Homo sapiens: one gene and its partners. The protein of the gene in region 4 purifies or fractionates together with the protein of the main gene of each other region. This does not show direct contact. Each region holds a gene or a part of one and is shown on either strand. Other genes may lie near its edges. The genes, in order: MADD, ZNF518A, CNKSR3, BBS7, RIPK4, ALMS1 and FAM83D.

The links.
Region 1: the proteins of BBS7 (region 4) and MADD purify together in Homo sapiens (co-immunoprecipitation; 3 studies listed by BioGRID and IntAct, with this or other methods). This does not show direct contact.
Region 2: the proteins of BBS7 (region 4) and ZNF518A purify together in Homo sapiens (affinity purification with mass spectrometry; 2 studies listed by BioGRID and IntAct, with this or other methods). This does not show direct contact.
Region 3: the proteins of BBS7 (region 4) and CNKSR3 purify together in Homo sapiens (affinity purification with mass spectrometry; 2 studies listed by BioGRID and IntAct, with this or other methods). This does not show direct contact.
Region 5: the proteins of BBS7 (region 4) and RIPK4 purify together in Homo sapiens (affinity purification with mass spectrometry, with the first as the bait; 2 studies listed by BioGRID). This does not show direct contact.
Region 6: the proteins of BBS7 (region 4) and ALMS1 purify together in Homo sapiens (co-immunoprecipitation; 3 studies listed by BioGRID and IntAct, with this or other methods). This does not show direct contact.
Region 7: the proteins of BBS7 (region 4) and FAM83D purify together in Homo sapiens (affinity purification with mass spectrometry; 2 studies listed by BioGRID and IntAct, with this or other methods). This does not show direct contact.

What each region holds. Positions count from the first base shown.
Region 1 is NC_000011.10:47,268,375-47,273,045, reverse strand, and holds the start of MADD (MAP kinase-activating death domain protein), read right to left. Parts: upstream 2,914-4,671; 5' UTR 2,800-2,913; intron 2,390-2,799; exon of another isoform or gene 2,066-2,389; intron 1,968-2,065; exon of another isoform or gene 1,804-1,967; intron 1,085-1,803; exon of another isoform or gene 936-1,084; intron 1-935. Other genes in the region: NR1H3 (oxysterols receptor LXR-alpha), read right to left, coding at 4,350-4,496. UniProt on the Homo sapiens protein: Guanyl-nucleotide exchange factor that regulates small GTPases of the Rab family. Converts GDP-bound inactive form of RAB27A and RAB27B to the GTP-bound active forms.
Region 2 is NC_000010.11:96,157,529-96,161,457, reverse strand, and holds part of ZNF518A (zinc finger protein 518A), read right to left. Parts: coding exon 684-3,929; 3' UTR 1-683.
Region 3 is NC_000006.12:154,388,474-154,392,402, forward strand, and holds part of CNKSR3 (connector enhancer of kinase suppressor of ras 3), read right to left. Parts: 3' UTR 1-3,929. UniProt on the Homo sapiens protein: Involved in transepithelial sodium transport. Regulates aldosterone-induced and epithelial sodium channel (ENaC)-mediated sodium transport through regulation of ENaC cell surface expression.
Region 4 is NC_000004.12:121,828,842-121,832,770, forward strand, and holds part of BBS7 (BBSome complex member BBS7), read right to left. Parts: intron 1-3,929.
Region 5 is NC_000021.9:41,763,896-41,768,523, forward strand, and holds the start of RIPK4 (receptor-interacting serine/threonine-protein kinase 4), read right to left. Parts: upstream 3,158-4,628; 5' UTR 3,147-3,157; coding exon 2,965-3,146; intron 1-2,964.
Region 6 is NC_000002.12:73,455,013-73,458,941, forward strand, and holds part of ALMS1 (centrosome-associated protein ALMS1), read left to right. Parts: intron 1-149; coding exon 150-283; intron 284-2,090; exon of another isoform or gene 2,091-2,314; intron 2,315-2,928; exon of another isoform or gene 2,929-3,929. UniProt on the Homo sapiens protein: Involved in PCM1-dependent intracellular transport. Required, directly or indirectly, for the localization of NCAPD2 to the proximal ends of centrioles.
Region 7 is NC_000020.11:38,950,081-38,953,699, forward strand, and holds the end of FAM83D (protein FAM83D), read left to right. Parts: intron 1-1,458; coding exon 1,459-2,440; 3' UTR 2,441-3,026; downstream 3,027-3,619.

The DNA of each region.
Region 1 (4,671 bases), on a different chromosome or scaffold from region 4:
ATGCTCAGACAATAACAGCTGGCTATTCTACCTCATGTGATCTCAAATGAAAATGTCCATGCCCCAATTGCCTAATCTGCACCACTTTTCTCCCTCCTTCAGGCAAGAAAGGAGCCCAGAGGCCACTGCTACTAGCTCTGCCCTTGGTGCTGAATCATAATCTCTCCTCTATTTTGATCTCAGGCTCAGAATCAGTAATACAATACCCACAGATGAGTCCTTGTCCTACTATACATTACAGAGGCTATGAATTAGAGGCAGAAATACCAGGATTTCTGCAAGGACAGGGAGACGTGCTCAGAGAAATTTCTAAACTATGTCCTAAAATTAGGAAAAGCTTTCATGGTCTTAATTATAATTTATTTCGTGTTAAGTGTCTATACACTTCTCTAAATAAAACGTTTCACCCCGCTGCACAGCTATTTCTGGTAGGGCTACTTCTTCTATGAGTAGAAGTTCTTTTCTCATATTTCTAGTGTTCCAGGATTCTACCTCTGTGCTCTACATGCGGCCTAAGACCTTGTTCAATGCACACGGAGAGAAACCCATTATCGTATACACACACACACCCTCTACTCCCTCACCTGCTGCTGCGGGCACTCCCATATATACAGACATACACACTCCCTGGATGCTTAAGGCCCTATTTGGTTTAGGTAATGAGTAGAAGTTTTTTCTCCCCTACCTAACAATAAACAAGACCTATTTGCAATACCTCTCAAATCCTCAAAATACTGCTTTCTCCTTTCCCTTGCTCCCAGTAGAGGACCTGCAGGTAATAGGATTCAGTTTTATCTCTATAGCGACTCTGGCTCCCAGCACTATTTATAGCAGAGCCACAGCCCCTCCCCTGCTTGGTGACCGCACAGTGCTAGCAGCTGCTACTCCAGAGTCAGCCAAGGCCCATAACAATTCACTCTCCTCGAACCTAGAGACACTTCTCCCACTGACAGTACCTGCTAAGAATTAGGTTGTCTTCTCCCTCATCTGTCTGTAGTTTGTACTTCGTCCTAATTCTGGCTTTTGATAGTGATATCTCTAGAACACCACCAGGTTTCTGAGCACGCCATATATTCATTTCTAGGTATCACCACTGCTTAACGAACCCAAATAGTCCCTTGGTTCTCCCAACTGCAATAGAGTCATGAGCAAACTGCAGGAGGTGGGGCACTATAACAGAGCCGCACTCAGCTCCTCCTGAGCAGAATCCAAGGGGGAGAGAAATAGAGAAATGAAATGGGATATGAGTAAAAAGCATAATTTGTTTTAATAAAGAATTATGTAGTTAACCTGTCATGGGATTCGAAAAAAAAAAAAGAATTATGTAGAAATGACTAGAGTGAGAGCCAAAGTATCTTAAAGTAAAACAGAATTTATAGAACCAGAGCTCTAGACTACACCTTGCAATCTATGTTTACATTGAAAACCCGGAGCCCTCTCCAACCAAAATCTCAAAGATCAGGCCTGAAGCACCTCCTACTGAGTACGCATCAGGCCTCTCTAGCCTTGGTGGGATCTCAGTCCCTCTCCACTGACAACTATCTGACGAAACTCAAGTCACTCACAATCATTTCCTTCCAGAGCCACAAGGACCCTGAGATCTTGTTATTATTCTAGCTACGGGTGGTAGGATAAATTTTTAGCCAGAGTTCACATCTGATCAGCAGCCACTGCCTTCAGTTATTCAGATTGCAAAGATAACTAAGATTTTCCTTCTCATTCTCTCCTCTCTCCCCTCCCCAAAAAGACTAACACCTTTAACTCCTCTAAAGACTAAATCCTCTAACATCACCCACAACTCACACTCTTGTCTTCACAACCAACGAGGCTCCGACTCTGCCTCTTGCCTCAACCATGTTTACTAACGTAGAGCCTCTGGTTCCTATCTTCCTGTATTCCAAAAGCATCCAGCTCAAAATGCATATCTATCTGCTGAAGTCCGACATCACCATCAGCTCCACCCAGAGGTAGATTTAGGATTCACAAACTTTTAAGTTATCTATGCCTTTTCAGCAGAAATAGCCATGCTAACCAACCCTTTGGATTCGTCCCTCATTTTGGACAGGATCTCACAGTAAAACCACAGGAACCAGAGAGCGATATGACATCTCTGCTGACGTGAACACAACAGGAGGCTCTCCTCCCCTCCTCTACCTCCCCAGGCAGTGACCTTGCAAGCTCATCAGCACAGACTGGTCCAGCGTATGGGAGAACTGGAGCAAGGAGGCTGGCAGCTGGCAGGGTTGGGGTAGAGGGGAGGGCAGGGAAAGGTGGAAGAAGGTAGATACACGAGGATGGGGAGGAGAGCGATTGCAGAAAGATGAAATGGTGTTCTCTCTCCAGCAAGTCAATTTTGAAATATCAAGTTAAAAAAAAAATTTCTTGAGAACCAAACGTGTTTCTCCAAATTCTAGCCAAAAATAAGGCGCAAGCACGCACACGCACAAGCACACCCGCCAAGCGCTGTGCGGGTTCGGCCCCAGGGCTGGCCAGCTCTGCCCGCCCCCTCACCTGCTGGACAGTTCTCCCCCGCCCCCGCCCCCGCCCCGAACCTGAACCCGAGCCGCCCGCTCGGCAGGAACCAAGCCCAGTAGCCTGAGCCCCCTCCTCTGCCCGGGGCGCCCCCATCCCCGTCCCCGCCCCTCCTCGGCAGACCCCCGTCCCCACGCCCCTTCACACTCCCCCAGGGCCTCCTGAGAGACCCCTTCCTCCAAGAGCCACGGTGTCCTCTCAGAGCCCGTCTCCCGCTCGGAGTCCCCAGACGCTCGCCCAGGACCCCACCGGCCCAGACTCTCCTACCTCCCAAGCTCTGGGGGACTGGCCAGGCCCAGCCCGACGTCCCCCGGCAGCGGGGCGTCAGTCGCTCCCCAGCGCGGCGCCGCTCCGAGCGGGCGCCAGTTCCGCGTCTGCACTGGGGGGCACGCACCACTCGCGCGGGGTGCGGAGGGGGAGGCCGGGGCCGGGGCCGTACCATTCAGCCCGGGGGGCCGGGGCTGCACCGAGCCGAGCGCCGCGGGGCGGGGCCGACCTCGGGAGACAGCGGCTGCGCACAGACCTAGCCTAGCGCCCGTGGGCGCGGGAGGGCGCGCCAGGCCGACCCAGCGCCGTCGCGTGCCAAGTGGGGGACCCACAGCAGTACCTTCTGTTTGGGTTGCTCAGAGAGACTCTCACCCGACGGGGTCATAGCGCCCGTTTCGACGACATGGGGATTCCTCTGAAAGTCACTTCCCAAGATAATCGGCCCCTGAGACTTCCTGACGGGCTCCCCATCCCCCAGTCCCCACCCCCCACTCACGCGCTTTGGCGGTGCTCGGCGTCCGAGCAGGGAAGCCGGCTGCCGAGCGGTGGAGCCTACCAATCCTGGGCAGCGGGGGCAGAGGGGGGCGCGCGGCCGCGGTTACCTCCACCGGGCGCGCGCGGGGAGTGGGGGGGCGTGGCCGCGCCGCGGCGCCCGCTGGGAGATGGAGTCCAGTCAGTCCGCGAGGACAGCCCCGCCTCAGGACATCCTCCCCGCGGCCACACGGCTCTTCTCTTCCTGTCCCAAAGGGCCTGGGGACCGACACTGGGTTCTAGGTCTTTCAGGTTGTGCCTTTTTCAGATGCCAAAGGAAAAACCAAGGCATGCTACACATGCACGTGAGGTGCACCGCCGACGCCTTAGCGCTGAAATCCAACACTTCCTCCTCCACCGCAGAAAGGCAACCGGATCCTACCCGGATCCCAGCAGGGGAAGGGGGCGCCTAAGCCTCAGCATTCCATTTACCCATATGGCGCAGTGGGGGTTAGTAAGAAGAGGCCCCCTCTCACGGCCAAGGCTGTCATTTGTGACTCTCCCTCCTCTGGGCCTGGAGGCGGATCCTAAAGATCGCAGGCTTCCTCCTCTATTACCGTGTCCCCACCCCCAATCCAGAAATTGGTTTCTCTCATTTTGTATTCATTTTGATCTTCCTGTTCAAACAGTACCAGACCTATCAGTGAGGCGGCGCTGAGGCATTTATGGCCATACCACAGAGTGACAGTGGAGAATTTTTCTTGGGGCCCTGTGGGAAAAACAGGAAGTGGTGGAGGCAGGATGGGCAGGGCTCTGGAGAACCCTGTGCAAAGTGGCCCCCAGGCCCATCCGTTTGTGGGGTCAGCATGATCTTCAGACACAGCACAGTGTTAGCGAGGGCTCCACTGCTCAGTAGCCACAAAACTCGCAACCCTTTGACTCTCTTTTAATGCCACGGGAGGATCTCCTTGCCCAGCTCCCAGGAATGTTTGCCCTTCTCAGTCTGTTCCACTTCTAGGAGGCAGCCACCAGGCCTCAGCCATCCGGCCAAGAAAACAGAAAATATGGGGACAGAACAGTCATTCGTGCACATCCCAGATCTCAGAGAGCAGCGGTGGGAGCTTTTTGTCCTGCAGACGCAGTGCAAACACTTGCTCTGAGTGGACGCTGCTCAGGGTCCGGAGGCTCACCAGTTTCATTAGCATCCGTGGGAACATCAGTCGGTCCTGGGGAAAGGAGAGAGACAAACACAGCTTTTGCCTGTCCCCAGGGAAGCGGGGCAAGAGTAGGGGAGTTGTGGGAGAGGTGAATTGTCTGCACAGCATGCAGTCAGAGAGAAATTCTTGAAGGGAAAGTAGGTATGTCAGGGAATGGGCCTGTGTGTGGGAAGGAGGAAAAGGA
Region 2 (3,929 bases), on a different chromosome or scaffold from region 4:
CATTTGACACAGTCACTTAGAAAAAGAAAATCACCTTGGGAGAGTGTTCCCAATCTCTAACAAGTGACAGAGTTCAACTGGAAAAAAAATTTACTTGCCAAAAACTCTTCAAGCATTGTATGAGGTGTAACTGTAGTGAGTTAAATGTACTTTCAAGGAGCCTAATATCCTTCAAAATAACTATATTTAGCAGATATAGAGTGACTTCTTTACCCAGGTTCTCTCAAAGTATCTTCACAAATGTGAGAAACTCCTTCAGTTCTACGATGAAAGAGCTCTCCATCTCCAGAGGAGCTACACTTAGATGCATAAGGCTGGTGGAAGAAGAGAGGGAATGGGGGTGTCAGCCATTACCCTCTACTAAGAGTCACTAAAGAACTAAAGTGGGAAAATTGTTTTATCAAAATTTTCTTTAGCCCTAACTTCCCGAGAACACGTTTAAAAAATTAAATCAAGGTACTTCTGTGCTGTGATTAGTTTCTTTCAAAACTTTTGAGTGCAGGGATAGCATTTTCAAATATCATACATACAACTTTTACTCTTCCACAGAAATACAATCAACTTTTAAAATGTTCGATTTCAGGTACTATACTGAAGTAGAAAATGTCTGCATTATGGTAACTGAACCCGTTGTTTTCTTCTAAGGTAATTTTACTTTTCTTTTCCTTGGTAATTATGGTAAACTATTCTAACATGTTCCAATCCCGAGTAGCTTCCATTAAATGTCTCTGCCCATGACCAGCCCAAGTATCCTGATTGTCAAATACTCTACCACAAAACCAACAGTTAAATTTAGCCTTCAAAATATTTTCAGAGGTAGTCTTCACAATCTGGTAATTGTTTTTGCTTGTCTTTTTGAGTGTTAATTTTAGCACAAATCTTTCTTTCACAGAACTAACAGGTTTAAATGTTTTGTGCCTCTTGGAAAAATCATCATAAGTTGTTTTAGGAGGGTTATAACAAACTGGTTTCAGTAAAGCATTTATAGTTCTTTTTGACAATGAAACCTTAAGTACATGTCCATTAAATTTAGCAATAGTTTTCATTACACTTACTACTTCTGGTGCATCTGCGTCAGGATGATTCAAAACTACAACTGGTTGGTTTCTCCTAGGACATTTCACAAGCTGTTTAGAACTAAAAGGGAAAAGCCGCAAAGTTCTGATGGAATCTTTTGAAAGCCTAGGTCTGCTAAATCCAAATGTTTCACGGACATCTTCAGGTTTTGCCTTTTCTTTACACTTTCTATGCAATGTTGCTTTTCTTCTTGGAGGTTCTTGGTAACTATCCCTACACTTTCGTTTACAGTTTCTGTTTCTAGATACAAAGGCAGTTTCAGAGTCTTTACTTCCATGAGTTTTTGTTTTTGAAAAAATTTTTTTGGAAGTCTTTTTTCTATTGAAGTTCCTCTCAATTCTACAATTTGTTTTACACCTTAATACCCTGGACTCTGAACAGTCACTGACACATATTGGTTCCTCAGAAGATTCTGGGCATGTTGCAGTAGAAGTTATCACAATTTCATTTGCTGGCATTAAGTCATCTAGTAAGAAGGGTAAGGCATCTCTAGATTCTGGCTCTTTCTGCTCTCCTCCTATAATCTGATTAGATGGTACGTTGTCTTTTTGCAATGAGGATGCAGAGTTGCTTACTGACAGATTATTAGCAGCAGTCACATTTAAAACAGGGTTAAAAATTTTCAGCAATATTCTTTGTGGTGTTCCTTCAGGTTTCTTTGGCTGTATATTTTGATAAGTACTATTTTGGACTAATTTGGGCTTAAGCAGCTCAGTTTTATTTGGCATCACACACTTTAAAAAAACAGCTTGTTTGCCATCAGGCAAGAAGGTATAAAGAGGTGGTTTTGGAAAAATCTCATTCTGCTGTTTTACTGAATCGGAGATATTCAACTTAGTGCTCTGTTGCTCAGATAGCATGTTAGGAATAAGAACAGCTTTCACAGAACTCGTTGGTTTCAAAATGTAAGGGCCTTTTAATGGCAAAGTATTTTCTGAGCTACTTTTCATGCTCAAACAACTGCCAATGCTGGAACAAAGTCCAGGTGTAAGACAATTATTGTTTGGTTCTACCTTCAAAATAGGTGTTTTGCAAGGCTCCTTAGTCACAGTTCCACGAGCTGGGGCACCCTCGGTTTTGACAGCGGAAACACCTTCAAGTTTCCCATTATTAAGTGTTAAAACCATCCCAGGTTTCTTGTTTACAAAAAGAGAAGCAGGGATACCTTGTGAATTAACCAATGGAAGTGCATTTCCAGGAATAACTGGTAGCCCAGGCTTGTTAGTAATGTTCAATGGTATTAAGAATCCTTTTGAAGTCTGAACAATTATAGTTTTTTTTTGTTCTGAATTTAAAAGTGGACTCTGCATATAAAAAGAACCTAAATTTTGTGTGGTGGCTCGTAGTTTGTCTTTTACAAGCTGCTGTGTTATTATCGCATCTGACTGAGTCTTAAGTAATGTGCCAAAACCTGAAATTCTAGGCATCTTCTCTGAATCTCTCACATCTTGTGGTATTGATGACACTTGTTTTTCTTTTCCAAATTTCAAATTCAAATCATTTGTAGGCACATTAATACCCACACTGCCAGGTGGAACTGGGAAGATGCCTTGCACTTTGAAATCTTTCGAAGATTCAACAATTTTGCCTTCTCTCTCGTGTTTTTGAAATGACTGGTCACAATGAAGTGGCAAGCCTTTATTTGGAGTGTTACTAGAGTCTTGTTTTACATCAGGTTTTATTTTCAATACATCCTGAAGCAATTGGTTTACTTCAGGTGGCAGAAATTCTGATGCCTGTTGGCTCTGGAGAGAGAAAACAGATGTGATTCTAGGCATCATAGGTGAATCGACATTAGAAAAGTCTTCCCATTTAGATTTTTCAGTCGCACACTCTAAATTTTGATTTTCATTACTGTACAGGTTTTGTCCATCAATGTTTTGTCCTTTTTCTAAAACATACTGTTCTTCAATTTCAGATTTTGCTTTTAAAGTTCCATCTTTATCATTTAAAAGGCTAATAGATGCTAATAGGCTATCTGGTTTTGAGCTCTCCTGCCTCACTAGTGATAAAAATGATTCACTAATTGGTTGTTGGACAACTGTTTTGCTGGATGAAGATTCTCTTTGAGGGTTTTCATACACTGCTGTTCCTGAAAACCTACGACGTTTATTAGAATTATTCACTTTTGAGTAATTATGAAAAGGTAATGATCCTTGGTTGGAGGATTCAACAGGTAACTCACAGTTGCCATAATTAATGCAATAATTATGCATATCTCCACTGTTGTATGCATTTGGTTTGGCAACACAGTTGACTTTATCTGGACTTTTAATGGTGGTACCTAATACCTCGGGGTGACTCTGAGTGAGATGATTTCCCCAGAAGTCAACATTATCTCTTGTTTCAAATTTTGTGGTCAAATTCACTGATGCTGTAACCAATTCTGATGTTGCTGACAAAGAAGATACACTTTTCTCATAATCCATTGTTTGAAGCATATTATTCCTTTGAGATATCAAAGTCATTTCTTTTTCTGAACTTGCTTTCCCTGAAAGTATAGAAGATGAACATGAAAATGGAGTAGCTGCTTTCATATAAACTGTGTCATTTAACTCAGTTGTTACTCCTGTTAAAAATCCATTAGTGTCCAAAGTCTGGGGCTGCAAATTAGCAGTACCGTCCTTTGCAGCACCTGACTGTGAGCCTGGTGAACATACATTTTGTTTGATAGGCACCAATTTTAATACAATATGCTGTTTTCCATCCATCATCTTGAAGCCCATAAACGTAGCATTATAGTTAGGGGAAACTGCTAGTTTATTATTTTTCATCATTACATTTTTCAGTGTAGGTCCTAGTACAGCAGTCTTCATGAAACCTGAACTAGCGTTTGGTCCCTCTTCAGCTCT
Region 3 (3,929 bases), on a different chromosome or scaffold from region 4:
GCAAATGCTAATACCTCTTTGGGATCCTGATTTCAATTTTTTTGGATAAATATCCAGAAATAGGGTTGCTAGGTCACATGGCAGTTCTATTTTTACATTTTTTAGGAACACCCATACTGTTTTCCTTAGTGGCTGCACCATTTTGCATTCCCATCAACAGTATGCAAGGGTTCCAATTTGTCCACTTCTTCACCAATATTTGTTGTGTTTTGGTTCTTCAATGATAGCCATCCTGACAGGTGAGAGTTGATATCTCACGGTGGTTTTGATTTGCATTGCCCTGATGATCAGTGATGATGAGCACCTTTTATCCTCTGGGAGCCTCCCATTTCCTCTCATTGATGAGAATTTGCCCATGAGAGGTTAATATCCCTATACTCTCGCAATGTGTCAACTAGCTTCTTTCATTGCTGTTCAAGATGCCAGAGCCCATGCTATTCAGATCCTTGGCCCATTTGTAAAAATTGGGTTTTTTTTTTTTTGCTATTGAGTTATGAATTCCTTACATATTTTAGATGTCAACCCTTATCACATACATCGCTTGCAAATACTTTCTCCCATTTCATAGGTTTTCTTTTCACTCTGTTGATTGTTGCCTTTGCTGTGAGAAGCTTTGTGATTTGATGTAACTTTGCTTATTTTTGTTTTTGTTGCCTGTGTTTTGGGGGTCATATCCATGAAATCATTGACAAGACCAATGTCAAAGAGCTTTTCGCCTATGTTTTCTTCTAGGAGTTTTACAGCTTCAGATTTTATGTTTAAATCTTTAATCCATTTTGAGTTGGGTTTTGTATGTGATGTAAGATAAAAGTCCAGTTTCCCCCTTTTGCACATGGATATCTGATTTTCTCAATACCATGTGTTGAAGAGACTATCCTTTCCCCATTATGTATTCTTGGCACCATTGTTGAAGATCAGTTGACAATATACATGTGAATCTATTTCTGGACTCTCTATTCTGTTCCATTCACATATATGTCTATCTGTTGGCCAGTAACATACTGTTTTGATTACTGTAGTTTTGTTATACATTCTGAAATCAAGCAATGTGATGCCTCTATCTTTGTTCTTCTTTCTCAAGATTGATATGGCTATTCATGGTCTTTTGTGGTTTCATATGGACTGTAGAATTGTTTTGTCCCTGTCTTCAGATGACATCGTCTCATATATAGAACGCCCTAAGACTCCATTTTTTAAACATGTTAGAATAAAGGAATTCAATAAAGTTGCATAATACAAAATCAACATACAAAAATCAGTTGCGATTTCTATACATTAACACAGAACTATCTAAAAAGGAAATTAGCGAAACAATCCCATATATAATAGCACCCAAAATAATAAAATACTTGGGAATAAACTTAACTAAGGAGGTGAAAGACTTGTATACTGAAAACTACAAAATACTGATGAAATAAATTAAAGAAGACACAAACAAATGGAAAGACATTTCATTCCTGGGCTGTAAGACTTAATATTGCTATTCTCCTTTTATAGAAAAATAAACAAACTCAAGTATGCAGAGTTAAGTTAATCATAATCTTTGATTCATTATACATCATCATCAGTCCACACATATCCCTCTTTTATTTCATTTCATTTTGAAAATAATAAAAGGAACACCCCATGTACCCATTATCCTAACCAAGAACTAGAATATTACTCATCAGTCACAAATCTTGTATGCTTCCCCACATTTTCTCAGCACCACCTACGTCTTAGACCTCAGCCATTTGCCTTGCCTTAGCCCCAGCCTGTGCCTGACCAACTCACCTAGGCTACCAAGTTCCCTTCTAGGCTGATTAGAGTTGGTTATCCCCTTGACTGTCAACTCTGCAGCTGGGCCAACCATACACACCCAGAGTTCCTAGTTCCTCCTGCCCTTTATGGACTCTGACAAAAGGCCACACTGCAGGGCATAGGCTTGGCATCTTGAACAGCAACAAAAGAAGGTAACACATTGTGAAAGTATAGGGACATTAACTTCTCATGGAAAAATTCTCACTATTAGGAGACAGGAAATGGGAGGCTCCCAGAGGATAAATTTCTTCTTCCCTTCCTCTCGTCTCTGGACTATACCTTACAGCTTTCCAGAGAAGTTTCACTGAGTGGGACACAATTGCCTAGTGCCCCGTTGTGTCTCTGTTTGGCTCATTTTGAAGTGATAGTCAGCAAGGCTGTGCATCATTTTGTGTATTAGTTTGTTGGGGCTGCCATAACAAAATACCACAGACTGGGTAGCTTAAACAACAGAAATGTGTCTTCTCACAGCTCTGCAGGTGGAAGACTGATCAAGGTGTCAGCAGCACTGGTTTCTTCTGAGGCTTTTTTTTTTTTTTTTTTTTGAGATGGAGTCTCACTCTGTTGCCCAGGCTGGAGTGCAGTGGCTCCATCTCGGCTCACTGCAACCTCCACCTCCCGGGTTCAAGTGATTCTCCTGCCTCAGCCTCCCAAGTAGCTGGGATTACAGGCACATGCCACCACGCCCAGCTAATTTTTATATTTTTAGTAGAGAGAGGGTTTCACCATTCTGGCCAGGCTGGTCTCGAACTCCTGACCTCAAGTGATTTGCCCACCTTGGCCTCCCAAACTGCTAGGATTACAAGCGGGAGCCATCGCGCCCGGCCTGACGCCTCTTTCTTTAGTGTGTAGCTGGTTTTCTTCTCCCCGACTTCACATGGTCTTTCCTCCATGTGCATACATATCTGTGTCCACATGTCCTTGATTGAGCCCACCATAATGACTGCATTTTAACTGAATCACTTTTTTTCTTTTTTTGAGACGGGGTCTCACTCTGTCACCCAGGCTGGAGTGCAGTGGCACAATCTCGGCTCACTGCAAGCTCCACCTCCTGGGTTCACACCATTCTCCTCCCTCAACTTCCCAAGTAGCTGAGACTACAGGCGCCTGCCACCACAACTGGCTAATTTTTTGTATTTTTAGTAGAGACAGGGTTTCATCGTGTTAGCCAGGATAGTCTCAATCTCCTGACCTCATGATCCGCCTGCCTCGGCCTCCCAAAGTGCTGGGATTACAGGCGTGAGCAATCAGGCCCAGCCTGAATCACTTCTTTAAAGACCGAATCTCCAAATACAGTTACATTCTGAGGTACTGGGGTTAGGACTTCAATATGTGAATTTGGAGAGAACGTAATTTAGTTCATGCCATTTTGTGTCACTTTGTGTCTTCTTTTGCTTCCCTTCTCTTTTTTCTCACCTCGCCTTGGGCTTGTATCTTCCAAATAAAACACCAATAGTTTCATCCTTGACACCAGCTCTGTAGAGATTTGGGCTAATGCAACTCTCTGTCACATACCTGTAGCTTCCTTCCTTTCCCACAATCTTGCTGCCCCGTCACAGGTAACCAACATCCTAAACTTGGTCTTTTCACATAAGTGTTGTGTCTAAATTATATATTTTTCAGTTTTACCTGTTTCTGAATGTTTAAAAAGAATGTAGCTGGGCATGGTGGCTCATGCCTGTAATCCCAGCACTTTGGAAGGCTGAGGCAGGCGGATCATGAGGTCAAGAGACAGAGACCATCCTGGCCAACATGGTGAAACCCCGTCACTATTAAAAATACAAAAATTAGCTTGGTGTGGTGGTGCGCACCTGTAGTCCCAGCTACTCGGGCAGCTGAGGCAGGAGAATCGCTCGAACCTGGGAGGTGGAGGTTGCAGTGAGCCGAGATGGAGCCACTGCACTCCAGCCTGGGCAACAGAGAGAGACTCCATCTCAAAAAAAAAAAAAGAGTGTACCATTATATGTTGTCTTCTGATGCTTTTTCCCACTCAGCACTATATTAATAAAATCCATCTCTTTGATATGAATAGCTGTAATTTATTCATTTTTACTTGCTGCAGAATATTCCATGGTAAGAATATACCACATGTAAACCTTTTTTTGCCAACAGACATTGGGCTGTGTTCT
Region 4 (3,929 bases):
CTGTATACATATATCATTAATATAAAGCAAATTTAAACATGTAATCCTTTACTGTTATATTAATTCAGCTTCTGAATATACTCGTAAAACTAAACAAGATATATGCCTCCTAAAGATGTGACAATTTATATAAAAACTTCATTTAAACAACTTTTATCTTCATTTTTCACTAATATTTCCAACAGCTAGTCTCATATATAGACATATATAAAATGCACTTAGAATTGCTTACTTACATAAGTATGTTTTTCTTTCATGTAATCACACAAATTACAGTGTGACTATATGCTTTATCCTTAAAAGAAATCTGATATCAAATATGAAAGAGTGACATCTGCTGTTTTTCATGCTCAGCATCCAATGCCACTGCTTATGGTCAGAGGACCATTATTTTTCTTTTTTTTTTTTTTTTGAGACGGAGTCTCATTCTGTTGCCAGGCTGGAGTGCAGTGGCGTGATCTCCACTCACTACAACCTCCACTTTCTGGGTTCAAGCGATTCTCCTGCCTCAGCCTCCCAAGTAGCTGGGATTACAGGCACATGCCACTACACCCAGCTAATGTTTTCGTATTTTGAGTAGAGATGGGGGTCTCACCATGTTGGCCAGGATGGTCTCGATCTCCTGACCTTGTGATCCGCCCACCTTGGCCTCCCAAAGTGCTGGGATTACAGGCATGAGCTACTGAGATTACAGGCGTGAGCCACCACGCCCGGCCAGGATCGTTATTTTTCTTTAGGGTACCACTCCTCTTTCTCTTGCCCTCTTCAGTTTCAGTGGCAATGGTCTCAGTCTATTTCTGGGACTTCAGGAGGAAGCATTGAGCAGTACATTCCATACCCCTGACCACAGTGGTTCATGGCTTAACAATGATACTCAATCCTGGGACTTTTATTGGAGCCAGTGGGCAAGAGAAGCTCTATAGCAGCTGAAAATATGTAAGACTGGATTCTAGGAACTGCTGGTGGCCATAACACTGCATGGTAAAGCCAAGAAAAGATAAAAGCAGAACTGAACAAGGGATAAAATCTTGATGACATCAATTAAGCCACTGATCCAGTTGTGCGTGAGGCAGATTACTGCTAGACTTTTAAGTTATGTGAGCCGATAAATTTATTTTATTTGGTTAAGCTGCTTGCATTTGGTTCCTTTTTACGATGACCAAGTTTCCTAATTAATATATATCATCTTTCATATAGTTAATGTTACCTTTTCATTTGGTTTTCACACACACACAAATGATGTATACCAACTAGCTATATGCAAATGATAATTGCTTTGGTCCGTTGTGGTGGCTCACGCCTGTAATCCCAGCACTTTGGGAGGCCAAGGCGGGCAGATCACTTGAGGTCAGGAGTTCGAGACTAACCTGGCCAACATGGTGAGACCCGTCTCTACTGAAAATACAAAAATTAGCCAGGCGTGGTAGCACACTCCTAAAATTCCAGCTACTCAGGAGGCTAAGGCATTAGAATCACTTGGGCCTGGGAGGAGGAGGTTGCAGTGAGCTGAGATTGAGACACTGCACTCCAGCCTGGGCTGATGAGTGAGACCCTGTCTCAAAACAAATAAAAAAAAAGATAATTTTTTTTTCTAGAAAGATAAATAATACACCCTTACTACTTTGATCTCAATTATGTTTTAGAAATCATGACATTTCTATTAGTCTTTAATCTTAACAGATGATATTTAGTAAACACATAGTGCCAGGTACTATAGAATGACTCAAATGGTTATCTTCTTTTAATCATCATAACAATTCAATAAAGTAAGTGCTATTATTTTCATTCCTCAGAAAAGAAAACTGAAGTTCAGAGAGTTAAGCAACCAGCTAGGGTCACACAGCTGGTAAGTCACAGAGCCAGGATTGAAACATTAGTACATCTGCCTCCAAAGCACATACTTCTACACTACCTCCATACACATATATTTTATTCAGGCATCCGAAAAACATCTGTTGAGTACCTATTATGTGCAAAACTATGTTTTAGGTCCTTGCAGGCTACATACAAAGATATTTAAAATTAGACTGTCCATGAAAATAAAGTTTAACTTAGAGAAATAAGTTTGTATAAAAATTATTAGAGGCCGGGCTTGGTGGCTCATGCCTGTAATACCAGTACTTTGGGAGGCTGAGGCAGGCAGATCACGAGGTCAAGAGATCAAGACCATCCTGGCCAACACGGTGAAACTAGTCTCTACTAAAAATACAAAAATTAGCTGGGCGTGGTGGCACATGCCTGTAGTCCCAACTACTCGGGAGGTTGAGGCAGGAGAATCACTTGAACCCAGGAGGTGGCGGTTGCAGTGAGCCAAGATCGTGCCACTGCACTCCAGAATGGCAACAAAGCAAGACTCTGTCTCAAAAAAAGAATAAAATAAAAAATAAAAAATTATTATATACTTTAAGCAGATAACAATAAATATCACAGACAAGTAAGAAAAAATGCTATGGAAACAGAGAAGAGAATCAAGGGAGAATCAAAGAAGGCTTCAAAAATGTAGCTACTGCAGGATGCAGTAGCTTGCACCTATAATCCCAGCTACTGGGGAGGCTGAGGCAGGAGGATTGCTTGAAGCCAGGAGTTTGAGACCAGCTTGGGCAACACAGTGAGACTCTCTTAAAAAAAAAAAAGTAGCTATTAAGTTGGACCTTAAAGGATAAACAGTTTTGAATCTTAAGAAAAAATACTCAAAGACACAGAATGATAAAAGAGCAAAGGTCTGCTATTATAAAAGTATATAATATGCTAGGGGCATGTTGAATTGTCTGCTATGATTAATGTGTGAGGTTCATTGTGGTACTTCAAAATGGGAGTAATTATTACAGGTTTAGACACAGATAAGCTTCCTTGGACGGTACAGTGAAAAACCTCCACAGAATGGATGTTAAAAACCAATTAGATTTCTGAAGAGTTCTTGGTTCTAAAAGGCTGAATTCTGAGGTAAAATTATGTTTTTAGAATAATACTGTTATTATCCTAAAATAACAAGAGAAGCAAGAGGTATTCTACTTCTTGCTCTCTAGTTGAGACTTTACCATGCTAAGTTTTTAGAACTTAGGAGAAAACCACAATAATCTGCTTAGGGAAAGAACCTTAAGAGGCAGAGGCAGAGAAAGAATAATGAGCTCTCTCCCAGACAAATAACACAAAGCAAAAAAAACAAAAACACACACACACACACACACACACACACACACACAAAACAAACAACCTACAGGCCAGGTGTGGTGGCTCACGCCTATAATCCCAGCACTTTAGGAGGCCAACGCAGGAGGATTGCTTGAGCTCAGGAGTTTGAGACCAGCTTGACCAACATGGTGAAACCCTGTCTACAGAAAATAAAAAAATTAGCTGGGCATGGTGGTGCATGCCTGTGGTCCCAGCTACTCAGGAGGCTGAGGTGGGAGGTCAAGGCTGCAGTAAGCCGAGATCATGCCACTGCACTCTAACCTGGGTGACAGAGTGAGATCCTGTCTCAAAACAAACAAACAAAACAAACAGCAACAACAACAAAAAAACAAAAACAAAAAACAACCTACAGATGTGAGAATGAGAATGCAAAGACTTTGAAGAAGCAGGAGGATCCAAGCTTAATGGGTAGAGGTAGAGATATTGGCCTTGCCCAAGAAGTAGGCCATTTCACATTCAGAGACAGGTTAAAAAAAGGAAGGAAAAGTTTAGTTTCTACTATATTGAGAAGTTGAGAGGAATTATTGGAGCTTATAGAAGATGAGTTAGAAGTGATGGTGGAGGAGCGAGGGGTGCAACTAGAAGCTTGAGAAGCGTATAGAACAATATAATGACCTCCGCACCATATCAGGATAGCTACAAAAAGCCTGCATTTTCTAAGCCCTGAAGTTCTAAGCCATGTTATATTTGTGCATAAAGAAATTCAACTGGAGTTTTTATTGGAATTAGGATAAATA
Region 5 (4,628 bases), on a different chromosome or scaffold from region 4:
GCCTTTGGGATCACTTTATTCTCTCCAAACTGGTCACAGCACCCATCCCTACACCCCACCCTAGGCCCTGTGACCCCCACAATGAGGGTCAGCCAGGGAGGCCAGCTGCCTCTCCAAAGCCACCCCACAGGACCCTCCGAGGCACCGAGCCCCATGATGAAGGTAATCTCAGATCAATGGGGTGTCACCTGTGAACTCCCAGGAGGGCCCCCTGGCAGGCACTTCCTGTCCCTGGGAGCCTCGCTAAGTGTCTGGGGGCTGGGCGGCCCCCCAACCTTTCCTGCACAGAAAAGCAAGCTCACATGGCCTGGCGCAGCCTGCTCATCAAACAAGCCCCGAGCAGGTGCTGTGGCCAAGGGCCGGCTGAAGGCCTGGCCCAGGGGAGCTGCAGGGAGCCAGGAGACCCCAGACCACCTTGAGAGGCAAGCAGCGTTGGCCAGTGAAAATCAGCCTCACCTGCACCTGTACCTGTGGTGGCTCCTATGTAACAAGTGGACTAGACCATCACTGACCCCCAGCAGCCTGGAAGAGGCCCAGACCCGTGTGTCAGGGGTGAGAGGGGCTGTCCCTCCGAGAAGAGAAGCAAGACTTAGGCAGAAGGGGTACAGGGCCGGGGGCTGCACACAAAGACCCTAGGAGAATCCTATGCCCCAATTCAGGGAACATCTTGCAAATATGAGGGGCTGGGGTGGGAGGCAGCTCGTCAGAAAAGCACTGAGAAATGTGGCAGGGCAAGTGGCACAGCGACTACTTCAAGGCCTAGGTACAACCTTGTGAGACTGCAATGCAACCAGCTCCTGGAGCACAGTGGGACTGATGTACATTCCTAACAAGAACCTCAGGCTCAATACAGTCAATAATTAACCTAAAGGAATCAGCTTCACAAAGAGCCAGGGTTTGACCAACTTCTCAGAAAGATCAGCCACTGCTGCACATGGCAAAGCCCCAACCTACTCTACCAGGCCCAGCAGAGCACAGGAGGTGAAATGCTTCCTGCTAGGCGATGCTGACCTCGACCTAGCCACCTGACATGCCACCACCTGTCTGCTTTGGGCAGGGTAGGAAAGGCTTCCAGTTAAAGTACAAAACACTTTTCAACCAAGCTATGCAATATCCTAAGTGATCCACCTTAAGTGGAGAAAGCCTCCCTCCAACCAGGCCACCCAAGAAATAAGGGACTGGTCGCTAGAAATAACAGAAGATCCTAAGGATGTGAGCTGGTGAGTCAGTCCAGGTAGGTGCTTGTTTACTTTGCTCTTCCAATATAAGAAAGTGGTGTGAAAATTTTCACTGATGATTAAAGCTCACACACATCCCCAAGAGATAAAACGAATGCCCCTATGGAGAGGGTTCCCTTTCAGAACCTAACCACTGGCTGGTATTCAAAGTGGTTTGGATTTCATCAAAATAACCACAGCACCCCTCCTGGCCTGAGAAGTTCCCAGAATCTGAGGCAGGGGAGAAAAAGTGCACAGCCTGGGCCAGCATCTCACCTTTGAACTAGTGGTGATTTGATGACACTCGTCACCACTCTACTGGTGTTTCCAAGAAACACTGGATTTGAGGGTTACGGCAAAAAGCCACCACTATCTCTGCTGTGTAGTCTCCTAGCCAAGGACGAAAATGCAAAGGGAGAGGACAGGCCTCTCATCCACAGAGGCGTCACAGTCACGGTATGGGGCTGCAGCACGCACTGCCACCCCAGACACAGGCATCACAACGATTCTGCAGAAAAGCTGGGGCTTAGCGGCCCCATCACTCAATCAGCCGAGCATTCGAAACCAGGTCTGCCAGGCAGCAAAGGCTAAATGGTATTTTAAAAAGGTGTCGCTTCTGAGTGTATGTGTTCAAGGAATCTCTAGGTAAAATACAAGCATAGCTTCCATGTAGAAGGTAAGCTTCATTAAAGGATAAATAATTAAAACGTGCTAAATTGAGCCTTACATATGAACCATCAAAATCAACTGTAAACAGTGAAATCTACAACAACAAAGAGGTACTGTTCAAGAACATTCTCCCTACCTCTCAAATTATGCACAGACGACAACCGACCCACCGAATTTAACACGGGCGGCTCTGCGTCCTTCCCATTCGTCTTTGTTACCTTGAACACTCCTGCTAGGTAGGTACAGGCAGGTTCCATTCTGACTTTTGGACTGGGAAACTGGGGTGCAGGAGGGCCCCATGGCACGGCCACAGAACTTGAATGCAAGGCCCTTCCCTAGCGGGTCGGTCTCGAAATTAAGTCAGCTAAAACGAGAGTGTGCGGCGAGGAAGCGCTGGGCGGACGGATCAACACCCCGGGCCCCGTGCCGGACCCCACTGCCAGGCCCGAGCCCCGGAGCTCCACCGCGCAAGCGCCGGGCGCCCGGGAAGCCTCGCCCGAGCCAAGCCGAAGCTTCCGACCGAAATAATTACAGTCTTACACCAATTTGTGTTCCAACGTAAATTACTAAGTAAGTCGAACGGAGGCTAACTCCACTCACAAAGCCCAGAGGCCCACATGGCAATTTTTCTAAGCCCTGCGCAGACCGCAGCGCCCCGGTGGGTCCCGGGCGGGCCGGACGCGCCTCCCAAGGGCGCGGGTCCGAGGCGCAAGGCGAGCTGGAGACCCCGAAAACCAGGGCCACTCGGGGAGTGTCAGGAAGCACGACTGGGCGCCTTAGGACGTCCGGGCAGACGCGGCCCCCGAGGAGCCCCAGAGGAGCCCCAGAGGAGCCGCCTGACCCGGCCCCGACGTGCGCGATCGAGCCCGGGCTCGCCAAAGCCCCCGCGCCCCTCCGGCCCGGACAGGCCGAGTGGACATTGTCGGAGCCCCGCGGCCTCGCCGGCAATTGGTTTCCCCCCCGAAGCTGCTCCGGGGGTGAGTTCGGGAGAGAGAGGCAGGACCCCGGGACCAGAGCACCCCGACCCCGACCCCAGCCCGGGCCCCAGCCGCCCCAGCGCCCCGCCCGGGCCGCTCACCTGTCGTCGACGTGCAGGCTGGGCGAGCACTTGATGGCCAGCCAGGTCTTCCAGTGGACATGGCGCACCTTGTACACCTGCCCGAAGCCGCCCGAGCCCACCTTCTCCCAGCCCGTGAACTCGCCCGCGTCGAAGGTGCGCAGCAGCGCCAGGGCCCATGGGGTCCCGCCGTCGCCCTCCATCGCGCACGTCTAGCCAGCGCCGCGGCGGCTGCCCAGGTGCCCAGGTGCGCGCTCCGCCCTGTTACGTCACTTCCGTAGGTCGTCCCGCCCCCAGGCCCCGCCCACTTACCCGCCCCCCGGGCGCCCTCTCTGCCAGCGCCCGGTGACTGCGGACGGATGAATAGACGCTGCGGGTCACTGCGCTCTCCCCTGGGTGAGCAGAGCTTCTCACGCTTCTCACGGGTCTCGACGTGCGCATCAGCTGCCCTGCTTTTCTTTGCTTTTTTTTTTTCCTTAATTGCGGAGTCACATGCAGTTGTAAGAAATCATTCACTTTGCCTAGTTTCCCCCAGTGTTACCACTTTGCAAAACTTTGCCAAAAAAAAAAGTCCAATCTCACAACCAGGATATTGACTTTGATACAGTCACCGATCTTATTCAGTTTTGCCGTTTTACTCGTCTTCCTTTGCATGTATTAGTTTTACACAATGTAATCATCTGTGTACCTTCCCGTATCCACCCCCACCTGGCCACTCCTGTGGCGATTTTACAGCCGCACCCCGGAGCCCTGGCATCACTAATCTTTCCTCTATTTCTAAAATTGTTTTATTTCAGAAATGTTATGTTTAGATACAGGAATCATACAGCGCCTAATTTTTTGAAATTGGCTTTCTTCACTCGTTAGTCTAATTCCCTGCAGGTTCACGTCTTGCTTTTTTACACGAGTTTCCTCTCAGAAAGTAACTTTTTTTAAAAAATTACCCAACAGCAAATCTAAAGTCCATTTCAAATGCAAGAGTTCCCTCATCCTTTCCTAAATAACAGCCTCTTTTTACAGGTAGAACAGATGGTTTGAAAAGGAAAGATTTTTTTTTCACATATGGGGAAAAAAAATTCCCAGCCTTGGAAGGATATTTGGGTTAGAGGCCGAAGTGCATCACAGATCACGCACGCGTCCACACCTCAGAAAACACTCACTCATTCCTGAGACGCAACGGTGAGTGAAGGCTTATTTTTGGCCACAGGAGATTAATAATGAAGACAGGAGGGCGGAGCTAAAGGAGAGGGTATTTTAACGACATTAACTGTGTTTTTGTGTTAGTAACTCGGAAAGAGAGAGGCTGCCCCAAGTCAGCGCATTGAAAGCCGCAGACCTAGTGTCTCCAGGCTCCCCCTTCCAAACGGGCGCGGACCTTCTTTCATAGCCTGTAGCGGGGAGCCGCGTCTCCCCACTGCCTCCCCACTCCCATCCGGCCGCTCTTTGGAGGGAACTCACACATCCCAACATGACGATGCTTGCTCGGGGGGCCTCCTGGGGGGACCAGGGAGCCACTTCCTTTCCCACATACTCCGGAAATTAAAGTTGGTCTCCTTAAGGCTGGAGTGGCAAATAGTTGTTTTAAGCTTGTCACAAATGTAACTTACATTTGGACTAATGTTTTAAAAAATAATTGGAGTTTTGAATCTACGAAGATACCTTGGAAGTAAACATAGTTATTATTT
Region 6 (3,929 bases), on a different chromosome or scaffold from region 4:
TTTCTAATAGGTTGTCATAATTGAGAAGAAGACATACTAAGCATTGCAGTGGGTATTAAATTGCATATATTGATGATCTTCTGTGTTGCAATTGTTGACAAATTATCACTTTTGCATTGTATTATCTCAAGTGTATGCTTTCTCTCCAGCCTGGAATATGAAGTTCAATTTAGCACATGATTGTGGATACTCCATTTCAGAATTAAATGAAGATGACAGGAGGAAAGTAGAAGAGATCAAGGCAGAGTTATTTGGTCATGGAAGAACAACTGACTTGTCCAAGGTATAAAAGAAATCTGGAAATGAAGAAAGTAAATATGAAAGAATGGGTGATGGAATTAGGATCTCTTACTTGGGCATCAGTTGAGTTGCTGATAATATTTGGCTAAAGCCTTTTTTGGTTTTGTTTTTGAGACAGTCTTGCTCTGTTGCCCAGGCTGAAGTGCAGCAGTGCAATCACAGGTCACTGCAGCCCTGAACTCTTAGACTCAAGGAATCCTCCCACCTCAGCCTCTCAGGTAGCTGGGACCACATGTGTGTACCGCCCTGCTCGGCTAATTTTTAAATTTTTGGCAGAGACAGGGTCTCTACGTTGCCCAGGCTGGTCTTGAACGCTTGGATTCAAGCGATCCTCTTGCCTTGGCCTCCCAAAATGCTGGGATTACAGGCATGAGCCACTGTGCCTAGGCAGGCATCTTAATTTTTCAAAAGTTAAGATATAAGTATTAGATTCTTACAGTCTAGATATGTTGTTTTTATTGATTCCAAATTCATATTTTGAAAAATTTATCTTCTTAGAAAAATAAGAACTGATTTGCTTGTTTTATCAATTTTTTTTTTAAGAACAGAGAAGACTAAATGTCACCCTTATTTTCTCTTGAAAGTGGTATCTTGAAATCCAGCTATTTTCAAATGTTTATTTTAAATACTTGAGTACACAGCTATAATAGCTTATGTATAAATGGCTTTCATTTTAATAGTACATATTTTCCTTCTATTAACTATTTCATATGTAGAAAAGAGCATATATGAATCATTTATGTAAAGAATAGCAGCAAGTAAAAATAATTCCCATATATTTACTATCGAGCTTGAGAAATAGAACATTACCAAATACTGTTGAAGTTCTTTGTTTCTCCTTTCCCAGTCATATCTTTTTTATTTCTTATTTTGATATATAATGATTTTCCTTCTCTTCAGTATGGTTTTGAACTCTAAGATGGAATCAATATGATACATATTCTTTTGAGAACTAGGTGTTTCACACAGTGTTAGGGTTTTGAGCTGCTTCTATGTAGATGTGCAGAGTTTTCATTTGTTCCTTATTACTGTACAGTATTCCAGTGTGTGATTACATGATAATTTATTCTTTCTCCTGTGGATAAGGCATTTTGTCTGCTATTTTGCATAGTAATAGGGTATAATAATGCCTATCGTAGAGGGTTTTGGTGTGGATTATGTGAGATAATGCCTATAAAATGCTTAGTAGAACGTGTGATGTCTAGTTAGTACTCAGTAACTGGCAGCTATTATTACTATTATTAATCCTGAAAGAATTGATATAGCTATCATGCAAGGATTTCATGGCCTGATTCATACAAAGTTTCTTAGAAAACTATTCTCCAGTGATATAGTTTATTTGGATTATCTCAATTTTGGAAAAGTTTGAAAAGTACAAATTAGATTGGATTTTAGGTTTTACGTATATGCTTGTGAAAAACAAAATTGACAAAATAATAAGAATAATAAAATGGGCAATTGGTTGTCTTAGCACCATTTGTATATATGCTGCCAAAGTGAGCACTATCCTAGCATCATTTGTTTAAAATTACATAGTTTTCTCAGTGATCTGTGTTTCCCTATTTTTAAAAATTATTTTCTTGCGTTCATATTTCCAGATCCCTCAGCAAGCAAGTTGCCTTCCTTTGGGTAGACTCTGGTTTGTCTGTGTTTTTCTTAAAATAAGGTGTCCTGAATTAGATGAAACACAATTTCACTTCTGATCTGACCAGCATGAAGTATATTCAGTAATTCTCTTTCTGTCAATGTACTGTGAGATCTTTAATGGTCACAGCATAATTGGGCATTAAAAAAAACCATGTACTGCTTTCAAAACTTAAAGCTGTAGGAAAAAAGCAAAGCAAAACAAACCAAACAAAAACCATGAACTGCTGCCAAGATTCCTATTCTCATTTCTTGTATCTATATAATACTTTTTTAAAAATCTTCTTATTTTTGAGACAGAGTCTCACTTTATTGCCCAGGCTGGACTGCAGTGGCATGATCTTGGCTCACTGCAACTTCTACATCCCAGGTTCAAGTGATTCTCCTGCCTCAGCCTCCCGGGTAGCTGGGATTACAGCTGTGTGAGTGGCGCATGACACCACATCCAGCTGATCTTTGTATTTTTAGTAGAGATGGGGTTTCACTATGTTGGCCAGGCTGGTCTTGAACTCCTGACCTCAAGTGATCCGCCTGCCTCGGCCTCCCAAAATGCTGGGATTACAGGCCATTACGCCTCGCCCTATGTAATACTTTTTAACTCTCCTGTATTTCTTTTTATTGCTTTTATATCAGTGTTCAAGCCTATTGGAATGATTTTTAATCAAATTTGATCATTTATTTTATTAAAATATCCCTTTCAGCTTTGTGCCATTTATATATTTGATAAGTATTTTTATCCAAATTAGCAATAAAAATGTTTACTAAGGGCTATGGATAAAAAGTCTAAAACTTTTGGCTGGGCGCGGTGGCTCATGCCTGTAATCCTAGCACTTTGGGAAGCCAAGGTGGGTGGATCACTTGAGGTCAGGAGTTCGAGACCAGCCTGGCCGACGTGGTGAAACCCCGTCTCTACTAAAAATACAAAAATTACCTGGGTGTCATGGTGCATGCCTGTAATCCTAGCTACTCGGGAAGCTGAGGCAGGAGAATTGCTTGAACCTGGGAGGTGGAGATTGTAGTGAGCCGAAGATTGTGCCAGTGCACTCCAGCCTAGGCGACAGAGGGAGACTTTGTCTCAAAAAAAAAAAAAAAAAAAAGGTCTAAAACTTTTGAATAAGATTACTCTCACACCTATTTTGAGTACTTCACTATACTGTCATTCAACCATCTTGTGTTTCACCATCTTATGATTGACTTTTTTCAGTCTATTAACTGAGTAGTTGCGAAATAGTGTTTGTCTAGATATGCCTTGTCCTTAGGGAACCCATATTGGCCACACTGTGTACGGTTTTGGACCTTTTATTTTTTTAACTTAAATATATTAGGATTTCCCTTTAAAACTTCTCTAAAAGCATAATTTCACAGGTATGTAATATCCCATTGTATGAACATAACAATTTATTCACTACCCTACTGTTGGACATTTATTCATTCATTCCAAAAATACATATTGAATGCCTGATATGCGCCATCCTCATCTATAGCCTGAGGACACACCACTGAACAAAATAGACAAACATTTCTTCATCATGAGCTTACATTAAGGAAGAGTATATGAATAACAACCAAACAAGTAAAATAAATGTCAGATGGTGGGATAAGAGCCAGGGAGACAAAGCAGAATGGTCAACACAGAACCTGAGAAAGAGGTATTGAATTAAATATCTGAGTAAGGTGAGAAAGTAAGGCAGTTAACAGTGACAAGAGCATTCCAGACAGAAATAGCATGCACACAGTTGCTGAGGTAAAGTGTGTGAAAGGAAAGGGAGTGTTAAAGGAAAGGGAGGAGGCCAGTGTGTTTGGAGAGTGAGAGTGAAAGGGAGAAGACTAGATTGTGGAAGGCAGTGGTTCTTGACGGGTAGTAAATGCCTCCCAAAGAGATATTTTGGAAAATTATGTGATTTTTCTTGGGTCATCACTGTAATTGGGGATTGTTTCTGGAATGCAGTAGATAGGTGTCAGGTATGTTACTATTTCTATAATGT
Region 7 (3,619 bases), on a different chromosome or scaffold from region 4:
AAAGTGCTGGGATGATAGGCATGAGCCACCGTGCCCAGCCAGATCCTGGCTTTCTTATATGGCCTTTAGTAGCTGTCTCCCAAAGGGTGAAACTCTTTCACTCAGAATTACTATCAATCCCTTCTGTCAGAATCCATTTGATAAAGAAAAAAGAAATCTCTGAAAACTTACTTGGCTCTGGTGGGATCACATGCCCACCCTGAATGAATCCCTGCATCCAAGGGAATAGGATACTCTGGCCAGTGTGGACCACATGCCTGCCCCTATTGTGGTTGGAGAGAGTATGATAATGAAAGCTTTCTGGGGTACAGGTGGGTGTGAGTTCTGCTAGCAGAGGAGGGAGGCGGGGAAGGGACACCGTACAGGCAAGGGCACATGGCCACTAATCAGCTCTAAAATGTTTTGAGCCATGGTGTTTTGTGAAAATGGCAGCACAGCCCCATGACTGTGGGTCCTCCACTGTTAGTGAGGAAGACTACTTCAGCAGCCACAAGGACAAGCTTGAGGGCAGGAAGGCCACTGATGTTGCCACTCAAACAGTAGCAAGGAGCAGGGCATTAGCAATTCATAGGGCCTAGGGTCTGATCTGGAGTCCAGCAGTAGCTCCCCTCTGTGATAATCCCTTTATCTGGTTTCCTTACCTTTAAGATGGGGGTGCTGGCCTAAATAGTTTTCTTACCTTTAAAATGGGGATGCTGGCCTAAATATTTAGAAGCCCTATTTTTTATTTTTAATTAATTTTTTGAGATGGAGTCTCGCCCAGTCATGGAATCTCGCCCAGTCATGGAATGTGCAGTGGTGTGACCTCAGCTTACCGCAACCTCTGCCTCCGGGGTTCAAACAATCCTCCCACCTCAGCCTCCCGAGTAGCTAGGATTACAGTCATGCACCACCACGCCTGGCTAATTTTTTATGTGTTTTTACTGGAGACAGGGTTTCACCATGTTGGCCAGGTTGGTCTTGAACTCCTGACCTCAAAGGATCTGCCCACTTCATCCTCTCAAAGTGCTGGGATTACAGTCATGAGCCACCGCGCCTGGCCCCCTTTCCAGTTTTTAAAAACTCTGAGGCAAGGACCAGGTGAGGTGGCTCACACCTGTAATCCTAGCACTTTGGAAGGATGAGGTGGGAGGACTGCCTGAGCCGAGGAGTTCAAGACCAGCCTGAGCAACATAGCAAGACCCCGTCTCAAAACAAACAAACAAACAAAAAAACCCTCTGAGGCTGAGCATTTAGTGTGTTTGTTAAACAGTTGGCCTTTTTACTTTTATGGTAACACACATAAATGTTATATATGTGTTAAGGCTAGTTAAATACATGCAAATGGTAGGTATGATATCACCAAATTTGTGACCCTTATGTGGTAAGATACCTGTACTATATTATTCAGATGGACAGTGAGTAAAACAAAATTGCTCATCCTTACCAGCTGCTGTTTGTTTCTTTTTAATCTTTAAGTTTTACATGGACGGATGGCAAATTAAACAGCAGTAACTTGGTAATTCTGTCTGGCCAAGTGGTTGAACACTTTGATCTGGAGTTCCGAATCCTGTATGCCCAGTCCAAGCCCATCAGCCCCAAACTCCTGTCTCACTTCCAGAGCAGCAACAAGTTTGATCACCTCACCAACCGAAAACCACAGTCCAAGGAGCTCACCCTGGGCAACCTGCTGCGGATGCGGCTGGCTAGGCTGTCAAGTACTCCCAGGAAGGCGGACCTGGACCCAGAGATGCCCGCAGAGGGCAAGGCAGAGCGCAAGCCCCATGACTGTGAGTCCTCTACTGTTAGTGAGGAAGACTACTTCAGCAGCCACAGGGACGAGCTCCAGAGCAGAAAGGCCATTGACGCTGCCACTCAAACAGAGCCAGGAGAGGAGATGCCAGGGCTGAGTGTGAGTGAGGTGGGAACACAAACCAGCATCACCACAGCATGTGCTGGTACCCAGACTGCAGTCATCACCAGGATAGCAAGCTCTCAAACCACGATTTGGTCCAGATCGACCACTACTCAGACTGACATGGATGAGAACATTCTCTTTCCTCGAGGAACTCAATCTACAGAAGGGTCACCAGTCTCAAAAATGTCTGTATCGAGATCTTCCAGTTTGAAGTCTTCCTCCTCTGTGTCTTCCCAAGGCTCTGTGGCAAGCTCCACTGGTTCTCCCGCTTCCATCAGAACCACTGACTTCCACAATCCTGGCTATCCCAAGTACCTGGGCACCCCCCACCTGGAACTGTACTTGAGTGACTCACTTAGAAACTTGAACAAAGAGCGGCAATTCCACTTCGCTGGTATCAGGTCCCGGCTCAACCACATGCTGGCTATGCTGTCAAGGAGAACACTCTTTACTGAAAACCACCTTGGCCTTCATTCTGGCAATTTCAGCAGAGTTAATTTGCTTGCTGTTAGAGATGTAGCACTTTATCCTTCCTATCAGTAACTGCTCCGTGTTCAGACTCCTGGTTTCTTCCAGGCTTACAGTGGACATCATCAGCTTCCTGCTTTAAAAAATATCTTATGTCCCTAATTGCCTTTCTTTTACCTGACTTTGTCACCTTTGTTGTCTTTGAATTCTTTAGGCTGCATATTATTTTACATGCTTTGTTTTGTCATGTATATACCAGGTATTGGTTTTATGGTTTAAACACTATGGATACAGGGGTTTGTTTTGCACAATTTTAATAGTCATGCACTACATAATGATGTTTTGGTCAATGACAGACCACGTATATGTTGGCAGTCTCATAAGATTATAATACTGTATTTTTACTATACCTTTTCTGTGTTTAGATACAAATACCATTATGTTACAGTTGCCTACAGTATTCAGTGCAGTAACATGATGTACAGGTTTGTAGCCTGTTTTGCATTTTTCTTAGGTTGTATGCTCTTCTGTTTTAAAGGTTTGAATCACCAGCATTTTTGTGATCAAAATCCTATTTAGAAAAAATAAAACTACTTTCTGTTTATCTCTTTAGAATATCTGTGTTCTTAGCATTAAATAAATATAAACTTGTGCTTCTGTACTTTTTCCCCCCCTCTGACACTTTTCTCTTTAAATCTGGGAGTATGTCACAAATTAATGCACCTAATAGATATAGGTATATAGATATCTATATCTGAAGGTTTTTTAAATAGTGTCAGGGTGAGGAAGAAGTAGATGATCCAAACTATAGAAGAGAAAATAGATCCACTTAACCTTCCTCAGCATCATGAATATTGATGTTACTCTATAGTTTAAGTGAGGAAACTGGCCAGAAATAGCAGGCCTTTGCACATGCTCTGCCTTTTCTCTTTTCGAAGAAAAAGCCTGAGCTATTTCAGTAGGTCCTTGGTACTCTGGTACTCTGCTTGTCTACCAAAGGAGGCGTTAGTGTATGTTCCTATATTCATTCCCAATATTAACTCTGGTGGCCCCATGGGCCTCATTTCATCAGCTGGGTGTATTGACAGTGATTTAGCCATCTAATATCCCAGAGTAGGGGCAAAAGAGGACACTGACAATTATCCCAGTTTCCTGGTCCAGTGGCAGGCAGTGTAATGGTTTCTACATCCTTCTAATCAGGATTGGTATGGCTGTGGAATCCTGTTTTTGTCTCATTCTCATGGACAGACAAAA